Linked DNA regions of Homo sapiens. Each later gene encodes a partner of the first gene's protein in a complex. Each region holds a gene or a part of one and is shown on either strand. Other genes may lie near its edges.

What was found. The genes of interacting proteins can lie anywhere in the genome.
Region 2: the proteins of NELFA (region 1) and NELFCD are in contact, whole or in part, in a crystal structure (PDB 5L3X), measured with the Homo sapiens proteins. Residues at the interface, in NP_005654.4 of Homo sapiens: Leu23, Trp24, Ala25, Leu54, Leu58, Leu61, His62, Arg65, Pro88, Trp89, Met92, Val93, Ile96, Leu97, Phe100, Gly104, Ser105, Leu106, Leu108, Leu110, Asn116, Val117, Asp119, Ile120, Leu121, Glu123, Leu124, Arg125, Lys127, Val128; in XP_047296144.1 of Homo sapiens: Cys204, Gln205, Gln206, Leu207, Glu208, Phe210, Ser211, Leu214, Arg215, Leu218, Ala219, Ile221, Leu222, Asp223, Gly225, Glu226, Cys241, His242, Gly243, Glu244, His245, Thr246, Tyr247, Leu248, Phe249, Ala252, Met253, Ser255, Val256, Leu257.

The regions. Positions count from the first base shown.
Region 1 is NC_000004.12:1,980,985-1,986,232, forward strand, and holds the end of NELFA (negative elongation factor A), read right to left. Parts: intron 5,200-5,248; coding exon 5,130-5,199; intron 4,881-5,129; coding exon 4,792-4,880; intron 3,936-4,791; coding exon 3,824-3,935; intron 3,130-3,823; coding exon 2,864-3,129; intron 2,712-2,863; coding exon 2,612-2,711; intron 2,520-2,611; coding exon 2,335-2,519; 3' UTR 1,739-2,334; downstream 1-1,738. UniProt on the Homo sapiens protein: Essential component of the NELF complex, a complex that negatively regulates the elongation of transcription by RNA polymerase II.
Region 2 is NC_000020.11:58,990,571-58,995,974, reverse strand, and holds the end of NELFCD (negative elongation factor C/D), read right to left. Parts: intron 5,066-5,404; coding exon 4,900-5,065; intron 4,664-4,899; coding exon 4,529-4,663; intron 4,095-4,528; coding exon 3,955-4,094; intron 2,978-3,954; coding exon 2,863-2,977; intron 2,527-2,862; coding exon 2,431-2,526; intron 2,352-2,430; coding exon 2,211-2,351; intron 1,866-2,210; coding exon 1,736-1,865; intron 1,334-1,735; coding exon 1,299-1,333; 3' UTR 862-1,298; downstream 1-861. Other genes in the region: CTSZ (cathepsin Z preproprotein), read left to right, coding at 216-326. UniProt on the Homo sapiens protein: Essential component of the NELF complex, a complex that negatively regulates the elongation of transcription by RNA polymerase II.

The sequences.
Region 1 (5,248 bases):
TGCCCAAAAGATCCCTTCCGGCAGGTAAGGGACTACCAATGCTTACGTCAAAACAGCAGAATCGGCTTTGCAGTGCACTTTGGGGAGCAGATATTAACTTATTTTTGTGTTGGACAGTAGTGAAATCTTGTGATTTTTAATCGCTTTGATAATACTTCCAAATTTTATGATTTTTCTGAAGGAAATAATGCAAACATTTTAAATATGTTTCTCCCCCTTTCCAAAAACTGTTAAACTAATGAGCAAGTAACACTAACTTTGAATGTCTCTACAATACCCGTTGATAACTCAGTGGAGCCAGGCTTTGGGGTAGCGGCCCTGAGCTTGCAGGGTTTCTCGCCACTGGGGCTGACCACGCCCCCAGCTGTGACCGTGGGTGTGGCTGGCTCTCGGCCCTGCCCAGCTTTGTTCTGAGGACGTGGTGACTTCCTGAACATCAGCTTCAATCCTCCATCATTAATGTGAAGCAAAACACAAAAACCGCCCCAATCCCTCAGGATTCCTTGGCATCCGAAACCAGCATCTGCACCTAAACCCATACCCACCCGTGTGCGCCCACAGGGGGATGTGTCCGAATGGGCAGCTTAAAATGTGGTCACCTGTGGGGGAAACTCTTCAGGCACCTGAAGTGAGAACCCAGCTGTCCGTCCTCAGGCCGGCCTTTCTTCCGGCGACACCCGTCCATGGCTGGCTGGGTCCCCTTCGCAGTGTTTGTCTGTCTTGACATCTAAACCCCGGCGTGTGCAGTGCCCATCTTCCAGGACTACCTTATTTTCCAGAATTAAACCTGTTTTATAATTCAAGTTAATGCAAATGACTGTCAGTTGCCAAATATCTTGATCCTATGAGTGTAGTTGATGACTGTTTGTTAGTCAGTAGAGTAAAATGCTGTGTCCACGGGGTGTCACAGCCTCACCATACCCTGTTGAGGTGTGAAATGCCCCGTCAGAAATTAAATACAAACTTAAATGTGCCTATTGGTGTCTAAACTTCATACAATGTAAGGTCAGATTCCTTTTAGGAATACTGGGTGCTGTCACCAGGTTTGATAGTTAGACTTAAAAACTTGAAATTCACTTTTTGGGGGGAGGGATATACTGAAATAGAGAGTTGAGACTTGCCAGTTGGGGGAAAATAGCATTTAAAATGGAAAGCTGTGTTTGGAAAATTGTGTATGAGTATTTTTGTATTAAAAACATTTTAAAGGCTTTTTTCTTAACTTATTTTATATGGGATTGTTTGATTTTTTTTCCAGTTACTTTGAATTGCAAAGCATCGGGTGTGGCACTGATGCCTCCGATGGGTGGGGCTCCCTGTCCTGACTGTGTCATTTTGCCTTTGACCTGACCCGCTGGGGAGAGGCAGTGCCACCTTGGGAAGTATAACAACAAATACTGGAAATAGCAGGCATAACTGACTGACTTTGGAAAAATGCTTTCTTCTTCTTTCAGAAATAATTTGCTTCCCAAATTCCCATTAAGGGTGAAATGGTCTAGAGAGAAGGAAGCACTGCTGTCCCCCAGCCCTGCAGTCGGCTGAGCCGGGTGGTCCCCAGGCCCACAGCCAAGTAAGTCAAGGGAGTACCCCGAGGGCTGATCCTACCTGTTCCCCACCCTGTGGGCCAGGGTGTCCTAGGAAGCCCCCAGCCCTGGCCCACCCCGTCCTGATGGCCGCCTAGGGAGGGACTGGGTCCCCGGAGCAGGGAGGACAAGCTGGCCCCAAACACAGCTATGGTGGCTTTCTTTAGAAAAGCTCGACTTTAATGGTTCAGATAGTTTTACAATGAAAATAGGTACCCAAAGACTGTCTTAAATGTCCACAACTATACAAAAGATGAATACAAAACTCCCAGGCAGGCACAGGCAGGGGACAAGGCCCACCGTCTCCCACGCTCTGGTGTGGTCGGGTGTCCCTGCCGCACCCCCAGTACCACCGTGCCACCTTGGTCCCCTCAACCCTGGGGGTAGGAGGGCACTGCCCCAGCGAGGGAAAATAGAAAAGATTTTAAAAAGTAAGAGTCTAACAGGCAGAGCTGTCACTAAAATTAGGAAGTTGTAACTTTTTTGGTTAATTTACTTACTACATTCAAAAATGTAACGTTGAGTCCAAAAAGTGTCTTAAATCACACAAAAAAGAACCCATATTAAAATTTTAAAAATAAGCCCCAAATACCCCAGAGAAATGCATCCAGAACTTAAAACAGGCTGGGTCAGCAGCAGGGCGGCGGCCGGGGGACCTCGGGGGCCAGGTGTCCGCCATCCGGTTACTTTAAGCTGGCAAAGCCATCGTCCCGTGGACCCCCACAAGTGACGGCCAGCTGTGAGGCAGGTGGTTCTAGGACACATTGGTCATGGGCTTGTACTTCTTGAAGCGCGTCCACTGGCCCGTGGCATAGTTCATCTCAAACACTGTGTCCACCAGCATGGTTGTGCTACCCTGGCCGTCCGCCTTGGGCAGGTCCTCCGTGTGCTCGCTCAGCTTGATCTGGATCACGTCCCCCTGCTCCTGGCACGGGTTCTCTGCAGAGAGCAGGAGCTGCTGGGTGGGTGTCTGGGGGCACCCGCCCCCAACCCGGCCCGGTGCACCCCCAGGCCCTGCCTTATGAACATACCTCGGGAGCCGGCCATGAAGCCCAGGATGAGGGCCTTCTCGGGCCGCGTGACTTTGTTGGCCGTCTTGAACATCTCCTGGGCAGCGAACATCTGCTCTCTCTACAGCGGGGAGAGGGGTGTGGGTGCCAGGGCCCCGCCAGGACCACCTCCTGCATCCCCCTGCAGGCACCGTGGCACCCCCACGCTAGGGGAGGTGGCCAGGGCCGTACCACCTACCTGGTGGCCTGTGGGCCCTACCAGTGTACACCTACCGTGAGGGACAGGTTCTTCTTAGGCTGCTGCTGAGCAGGGGCCTGGGTCTGCGGGGCCACCATGGCAACCGGGGGTGTCTGAGTGGTAGGGGCGACAGCCGGAGGTGTGGTGGGTGTCAGAGGCGAGGTGGGCGCCGCAGGCGTGGGTGTGGCAGGGCTCAGGCCGCTGTTGTACATGGGCGCCCGCTGCTTGAACTGCGCTGGCAACGTGGGGCTCGGGGCGCTGGGCTCCTCTGGTGGGCGGCTGGCTTCCCGGGAAGATGGGGCTGCAAGTAGACCGGGGCCTGGTGAGGGGGCTGGACCCCCACCCTGTTCCCAAACCCTAGTGCTCCTGGAGGTGACAGGCTCAGCTCCCCTTCTCTGTCCTGCTACCCTCTGACAAGAACTCCCTGTGGCCCCCAGCCAAGGCACAGGCCCCAGAAGCCCCAGCCAGAGGAACAAGGCCAGTGGTCTCAGGCCTTTCCAGACTCGCAGATAAGATGTCTGGACTCTGGCCAGCTGCTGGCCTGCAGCAGGTCCCCATACCGTAGGCACTGCTGGGAAGACAGGAAGGCTGTATCCTCAAGCCCCTTGGGCCCAGGACCTGGCCTGAGGTGCTGTGAGCCTGGCAGTGCCCTCCGTCTGGGAGGGGATGGCTCTCAGCTCCCCTCCCGCCTACCCAGCAACAAGAGCTGGGTCACCTGGCAGAAAACCCTTTCGAACCCAATCCCCTTCCTGCCGTGTCCCCTGGGGCCGCTGCCTGTCTGTGCCCAGGACGGGCAGGGTGGGGCAAAGCAGCTGGTTTATGTCTTGGAGCTCAAGCTGAACAGCGGGGCATCTGCCCCCAGCAGATTCTGGCTGAGGCAGAAGGGGGACAACAGAGATGCAGGAGTGAGAACCGCAGCCCTGGCAGCGCCCGTGGGCAAGGTCATGTCCTGGCAGGCAGCTTGGCTGGTTCCAGGCTGGGGCCAGCAGACTCACCTGGGGGCGTCTCGGAGCTGGGGATGTAGGAGGAGGCGGGAACCACGCTGGGCGTGGAGGGAAGGTAGCTCGTGGAGGGCAGCGCAGGCTCATTGTTCAGGGACCCAAGTTTCTGGAACACAGAGTTTAAGGTTCCTTCCAGAAGAGGCCATGCTTCCGGCATGTGCTAACACATGGCCCGACCCGGAGCTCCACTGCCACAGGCTGTGGCCCCCCGAGCTAGAGCAGGAAGGCGGGGGCCACTCTCCCGAGCTCCCTGGGCTAGACAACGGGACCCCTGGCCCCTGGCGCCCCAGCAGAGTTGGGGACTGAGCCGCTCCTGTGTAGGAGAGGGGAGGGGTTGAGGAGCCCAAACAGCCCATCTTGAGCACAGAAGGAGCGATGCTTTTTCTTACCACGAAGCGTTGATATAAAGGAAGATGCTCATGTTAAGAAACACAGAACACGCAGCGGCGGGAAGAAAGGAGCTTATTATCCTGAAGTGACCCCACAGTGTGGCCTCCTCCAGGCCCTGGCCTCAGACGACCCACTGCAGCCTCTGTGCACCTGCCGCGCCCCGTGGCTGCCTCCCACCCGCAGGCAGGGCCTGGTCTCCGGGACACTGAGGCCTCTGACCACCCAGCACCCCCACAGGCCTGTCCTGCACCCATTCACGGCCACGTGCAAGGCTTAGGTCCCACCAGCCCTGCCTGACGGGACACTGAGGCACAGGGTTGAGGAGGACTCCCCTGGCAGCCCCTCCAGCAAGCGTGGGGCAGGTTCCCGCTCCAAGCCTGAGTCAGATGCCCATGTCAGGGCACGGCCCACACTGCCTCTCATGTACATATACGTATATATACATAAATACAGACTGCACACATATGTACATACATATATATATTCTCCGACAGAGCACACTAGTGGCCACAATCGGAACAAAAGGGGCACCCGCAGTGGTGCCAGACATGGGGTGCAGCCCCGAGCCCTACCTGCGTGGACACCAGGCCGGCTGCGTAGTCCGGGGTGGCGTTCTCCACCACCGTTTCCTCCTTGGCCGGCTTCTCCACCACCTCCGCATCTGTGGACAAAACAGGAGTCCTCGCCAGTGCCCGGGCGCGTCTGCAGTGTCAGCTCAGGGCAGCGGCAGGGAATCAAACAGCTTCCCAGGGGAGGCCACCAAGGAGCGAGGAGAAAAGCAGGCACCCACCCACGGAGAGCAGCCTCACGGGGCACAGCCCTGCCCGCCGAGCGTGGGCACAACCCACCCCAACTGGGCAGGGCCCGCAGGGACCCCCATTGCCGCCGACACGCAGGCCCCAACCCCCACCGAGAGTCTTCCTTCTCCGCTTCGCCTCTCGGCCAGCGCCAACCATATCCAGCTCAGAGATGTCCAGCAGCTGCCAAGACAAGCACAGCCCTGCCTTAGTGACGGCACCAGGGCGCAAC
Region 2 (5,404 bases), on another chromosome or scaffold:
CCCTCATGTTAAACATTAACCAAGTGAAATGTTTCACAAAAGGTATTTCAGAACAGGGGTCATGGGAAAGCTGAGGGGCAGCTGAGTGGGCTGTCTGGATCCCCCAAGGCTGGCCTGAGAGATGGAGGCAGAAAGCAGGGGGCAGGGGGCTGACGGCAGCAAGGGGAGCGGGAGACGGCTGCAGATGGGCTGACGCGCGATCCCACTTCTCACAGGGCGAGAGAGGCTGGCTGAGGATCGTGACCAGCACCTATAAGGATGGGAAGGGCGCCAGATACAACCTTGCCATCGAGGAGCACTGTACATTTGGGGACCCCATCGTTTAAGGCCATGTCACTAGAAGCGCAGTTTAAGAAAAGGCATGGTGACCCATGACCAGAGGGGATCCTATGGTTATGTGTGCCAGGCTGGCTGGCAGGAACTGGGGTGGCTATCAATATTGGATGGCGAGGACAGCGTGGCACTGGCTGCGAGTGTTCCTGAGAGTTGAAAGTGGGATGACTTATGACACTTGCACAGCATGGCTCTGCCTCACAATGATGCAGTCAGCCACCTGGTGAAGAAGTGACCTGCGACACAGGAAACGATGGGACCTCAGTCTTCTTCAGCAGAGGACTTGATATTTTGTATTTGGCAACTGTGGGCAATAATATGGCATTTAAGAGGTGAAAGAGTTCAGACTTATCACCATTCTTATGTCACTTTAGAATCAAGGGTGGGGGAGGGAGGGAGGGAGTTGGCAGTTTCAAATCGCCCAAGTGATGAATAAAGTATCTGGCTCTGCACGAGACTGAGGCTGCCCGTGCCTTATTCGCACACAAAAACAATGTCACATCAGGACTTAATCCAACCCAGCAGAAAGGCTTTTTAAAAATTTACTTATTACTTGTTCTTAGCAAATTAAGACAATTACAATAAAACATCAGCTAACTGGGTTCTTGTGAGAAAACTGAGGTCAGCTTGGAAAGGAGTTCCCCGAGTGGAGTTCCCAGCGGCCCGCGGCTGACGGCCAGATCTGTCCTGAGGGGTCGTGGGAGCCCAGCGCCTGCCTTGAGGGAAATGAACACTGAAAACAGGATTTGGGAGCAGTATTGGATTGACAGCAGAGAAGGGACTGTTTGTAAGGGCAGTTTCTCACTGAAGCTGCTACCATTTTCCTTTGTAAAGAAGTCATCCACCTCCTCCCAGCGGTGCCCATTTTCAAGACGCTGCCCGAGCCTCTTAAAACAGCTTCTTGAAAGGGTTTTTCCACAACGGGTTCTGGAATGTTCTGCTTCAGCTCTGGAGGATGCTCTAAATTAGTTCACCATGATGAAGTTAGATTTGCAGTGAGCTTTAACGAGGAAAACAGTGACTGTGTTAGAAACAGGAAGTAGAACATGACATTTTCTTTCTTTTTTTTTTTTTTTTTTGAGATGCAGTTTTGCTCTTGTTGCCCAGGATAGAGTGCAATGGCGCGATCTTGGCTCACTGCAACCTCTGCCTCCCAGGTTAAGCGATTCTCCTGCCTCAGCCTCCCGAGTAGCTAGGATTACAGGCACGTGCCACCATGCCCAGCTAATGCTGTATTTTTAGTAGAGATGGGGTTTCTCCATGTTGGTCGGGCTGGTCTTGAACTCCCAACCTCAGGTGATCCACCCACCTTGGCCTCCCAAAGTGCTGGGATTACAGGCATGAGCCACCGCGCCCAGCTGACATTTTCTATTGTAGTAAAGGGCTAGGCAGTCGGCCTCACCTATAAACTCCGTCACAGGGTCATGCTCGCCTTCCGTTTTGATGGTACCTGCGATGCTGTCATTCTCCAGGATGGGGAGGAAAAGTTGCACGAAGTCAGAGGTATAAGGAGGAGCAATGACGTCCAGCACCTGCGTGGGGGAGCACAGGGTGACTTCTTCCGCACACTAGTGCGGGGCATCCACCGACATCCGGGTGAAATGGCCATCAGTTTGGAAAAAATCCCTCCCCACCCCCACCGGCCGGTGACACCACCCATCTCCAACATTCAGATGCCCAGGGTGGTAATGGAGGTAAAGTGTGTCATACAGCTGCTGCAGGCAGAAGGTGCTTTTTGGTAAACGAGTATCTGTCATTGTCATCACTACATCAGAAAGCACAGTTCTCAGTTAGGTACAAAATGAACTAAATTAAGCCAAAAAGGGCAGTGCTAGTGTAAACAGTATGAAACATGAAACCAACGGTGCATTGCTGACCTCAGTGACAAAATAGCGAATGAGTGAAATGTCAGTGTCCAGCTTCTCCAGACACTTTCGGATGTAACTGACAACAGGAAGTACATAACCTCGACTCAGCAGGTGAACCATCCTGTCCAGCAGTGTCTTCTTCAACTCAAGCTACAGAAGAAGGGGGACAGGGAGCTGGTTAGAGAGGGTCCTCCTCAGCCCTCTGGCAAGCCCCACGGGCACTGCTCACCTGCTCCATCACGTCCAGCTGGGAGTGCTCAGTCTCAAAAAGCTTAACAAGCAGCTGCAGGACCTGGGGGTGCAGGAGCTGGTGGCAGGTGCTGATCTACAAACAGGCCAGAGGGAGCTTCGCTGAGCAGTGTGGTCACGCTCAGCACACAGAGAAACTGGGCACTGTCACAGCCACCAAAGAGCTTATCACTGTGGAAGAAGGTCCTGACACCTAAGCCAGGGCCATCAGCTTCCAGTAACACTTGACTGAGGTTAAGAAATTTCTGCAGTCAATGAAGCTAGGTCCTTAAGAGGAAAATCCTCAGGACAGAAATAACTATTTTTGAGAAGAGTATCCTCTAAACTCACTGAATAGATGCAATGTTAATGCCAACGTAAACAGCATGAGACAGACACTGTGTAGGCTGTGAACAGCTCTCCGCCCTCTTACCTCATCCAGCAACGCCAGGTGGACAGGGGTATGGTCAGTCTGCAGCTGAAAGTACCTTGGTTCTGATACAGTCCAATCCACCCACTTCAGCACACCCATTGCTACCACTGGAAACCTACAGTTAAGGCAGAATGCTTCCTTTAAAAAACAATTTAAAACACAAAATATGCTAGAAAAGCATTAAAGGAAAGTTAAAAACAAACTCAAATGACTCCATCATTCACCCTTCAATACGCCCCCCAACCCTTTTTTTTTTTTTTTTTTGAGACAGGGTCTCACTCTGTCTTCCAGGCTGGAGTACAATGACACAATCATGGCTCACTGCAGCCTCCCGAGTACCTGGGACTACAGGTGAGTGCCACCATGTCTAGCTAATTTTTTGTAGAGAGAGGGTCCACCATGTTGCTCAGACTGGTCTCAAACTCCTGGGCTCAAACTATTTTCTTGCCTTGGCCTCCCAGATTGCTGGGATTCCAGGCCAGAGCCACTGTGCCTGGCGTAAGCTCTGCTTATTAGTAAATAGTGTGAATGGATCAGCAGCCACTCAACATGCGGTGCAAGAAGCAGAGTTCAATTCTCTGCTCACTTTAAACCACTTATCGAAAGGAAAAGATCATTAATGAGTGATACTCAGTGAGTTTGGTGGACTGGGTTGAAGTTTACCTTTATTTAGCAAACTCTTTCTTCATCCCTAGTATAAATTATTAGGGGAAAGACATGCCTAAGAGGACACACTATTTCTAGGACACGTCTATTTATATGATTGGCATAATCACAAATCATTTCTATGTAAGCAATACTTTGTGGGCATAACTTTACCTATAAATAGACCCTTCAAATCAATTTTTGTTAACTCTGGCTATCTTTTACTTAGCCTAATTTGTACTCAACAGACTTCTGGCAAATAAACATCTGAAAATTACTCATGCTGCTAAAGCTGTTTAAAGTTCCCTACATACTGTTTAAAAATGAAAAAATAAATAAAATGAACAAGTATCGCTGAAGCTTTTGTTATTTGAGCTTTCAATATGAAAACTCAAACGACCTCCTCCCCAAAGGACTGATTTAAGAACTGAGTTTCGTTTTGCTTACCTAATACACTGATAAAGTGTGCTCAATTCTGCCACTAGTTCAGAGGCCCCTTTGTTCTCGTTGCAACACAAATTGTGAACGGTTTCGACAGCTTTTGACGTTGACTTCAGCTCATCTTTATTGATGCTCACTCGCTTGTTCTGAAAACACACACACAAGCTGGTGAGCCTGACAGGGCAGATATCCCTGCTGTCGGGGTGTTCTGGTGTCGGCCACTTCTTGCAAAGCACTTTCCCTATTTCTACTTAAGTTGGGAGTCAATTCAGCTGTCAAACTTCACAGTCACACAGTGTACAGAAACTGAAAAGCAATGAGACTAGTGTTTGTCCATGTCTTACGGAAATCAGTTTCATTTCTTTAGTCACATTTCAATTTACGGTTTGCAGAGCATTGGAGACATTACGCACATTTTCTGGAGACGTTTAGTGCTTTCTCTACGCAGAAACACAAGAAAACACATGCCTGATACTAGGGAGGGTCAAGATTTCTTGCAGCCAAAATTCCAAAATAATATCAAAGCAGAGGAGGATATTTGTCTCCTAAAAAATCCACAAATTCCCAGAACCGATGGTACCTTCTTCCAGGTCTCAACCACGCTTGCTGCGTACGCCAAGATGTGGATGTATTTGTGCTTGTGGTCCTGGTTGATCCGAGCCCCTGGTTTAAAGAGTGACTGCATGAACAGGTCCAGGAAGGCTGGAACGCGGATCTGAGGAGAAGCATATGCCCAGTTCGGGATGGCAGGCGTGAGGGCACTGCTCACCCACCTCCCCTCAGGGTTCCCTACACAGCAGGGGCCCAACAGGCTCCAGGCAGAGAGTGTGACTGAGGAAGGACCAGGACAATGATGGATTTGCATTCACAGCCTTCAGACAATCAGACAAGCACAGACTTTCCAAAGTCACCTTACCAGCTGACATTGGGGATTCTTGAGAAGCAACTTACAAGTTCAACCGGAGGAGGGTCCATGCTTGTGAACATCTTGAACAGGACGGTGATGTCAGCAGGGTTCAGGGCTCCTTTGGACAGCATGGCCCCGAGAGCCTGGCAGGCCCTGGGGTAGGAGGCAGCTGTGCCCAAGGCTAGTGTGATCTGACTGGCGTCATGACCTCTTGATGAGAAAAACCATAGACCCCGTTACTAACAAGGCAGCTTCTTTTTTCTGTTCTTTTTTACACATATAATACTTTGCATTGTTGGGATCTGTTTTTCTGTCATTCACGAGTATACTGACTGACCCACAAAAATAACATTTACAACACTGGAAAAGTGATTCCAATACAGCTTGCTGGCTCTATAAGAAAGGAGTCACACACTTTAAATACTTAGGAACACTCTATTGGTAGCAGAAAATAAAGCTAATATGAGCTCATTTTGCGACACTGTAACAATGAGATTGCTGAGCAACTATTTCTGGACTGACTTTGTTTGTTACTTCAGAACCCCAGTG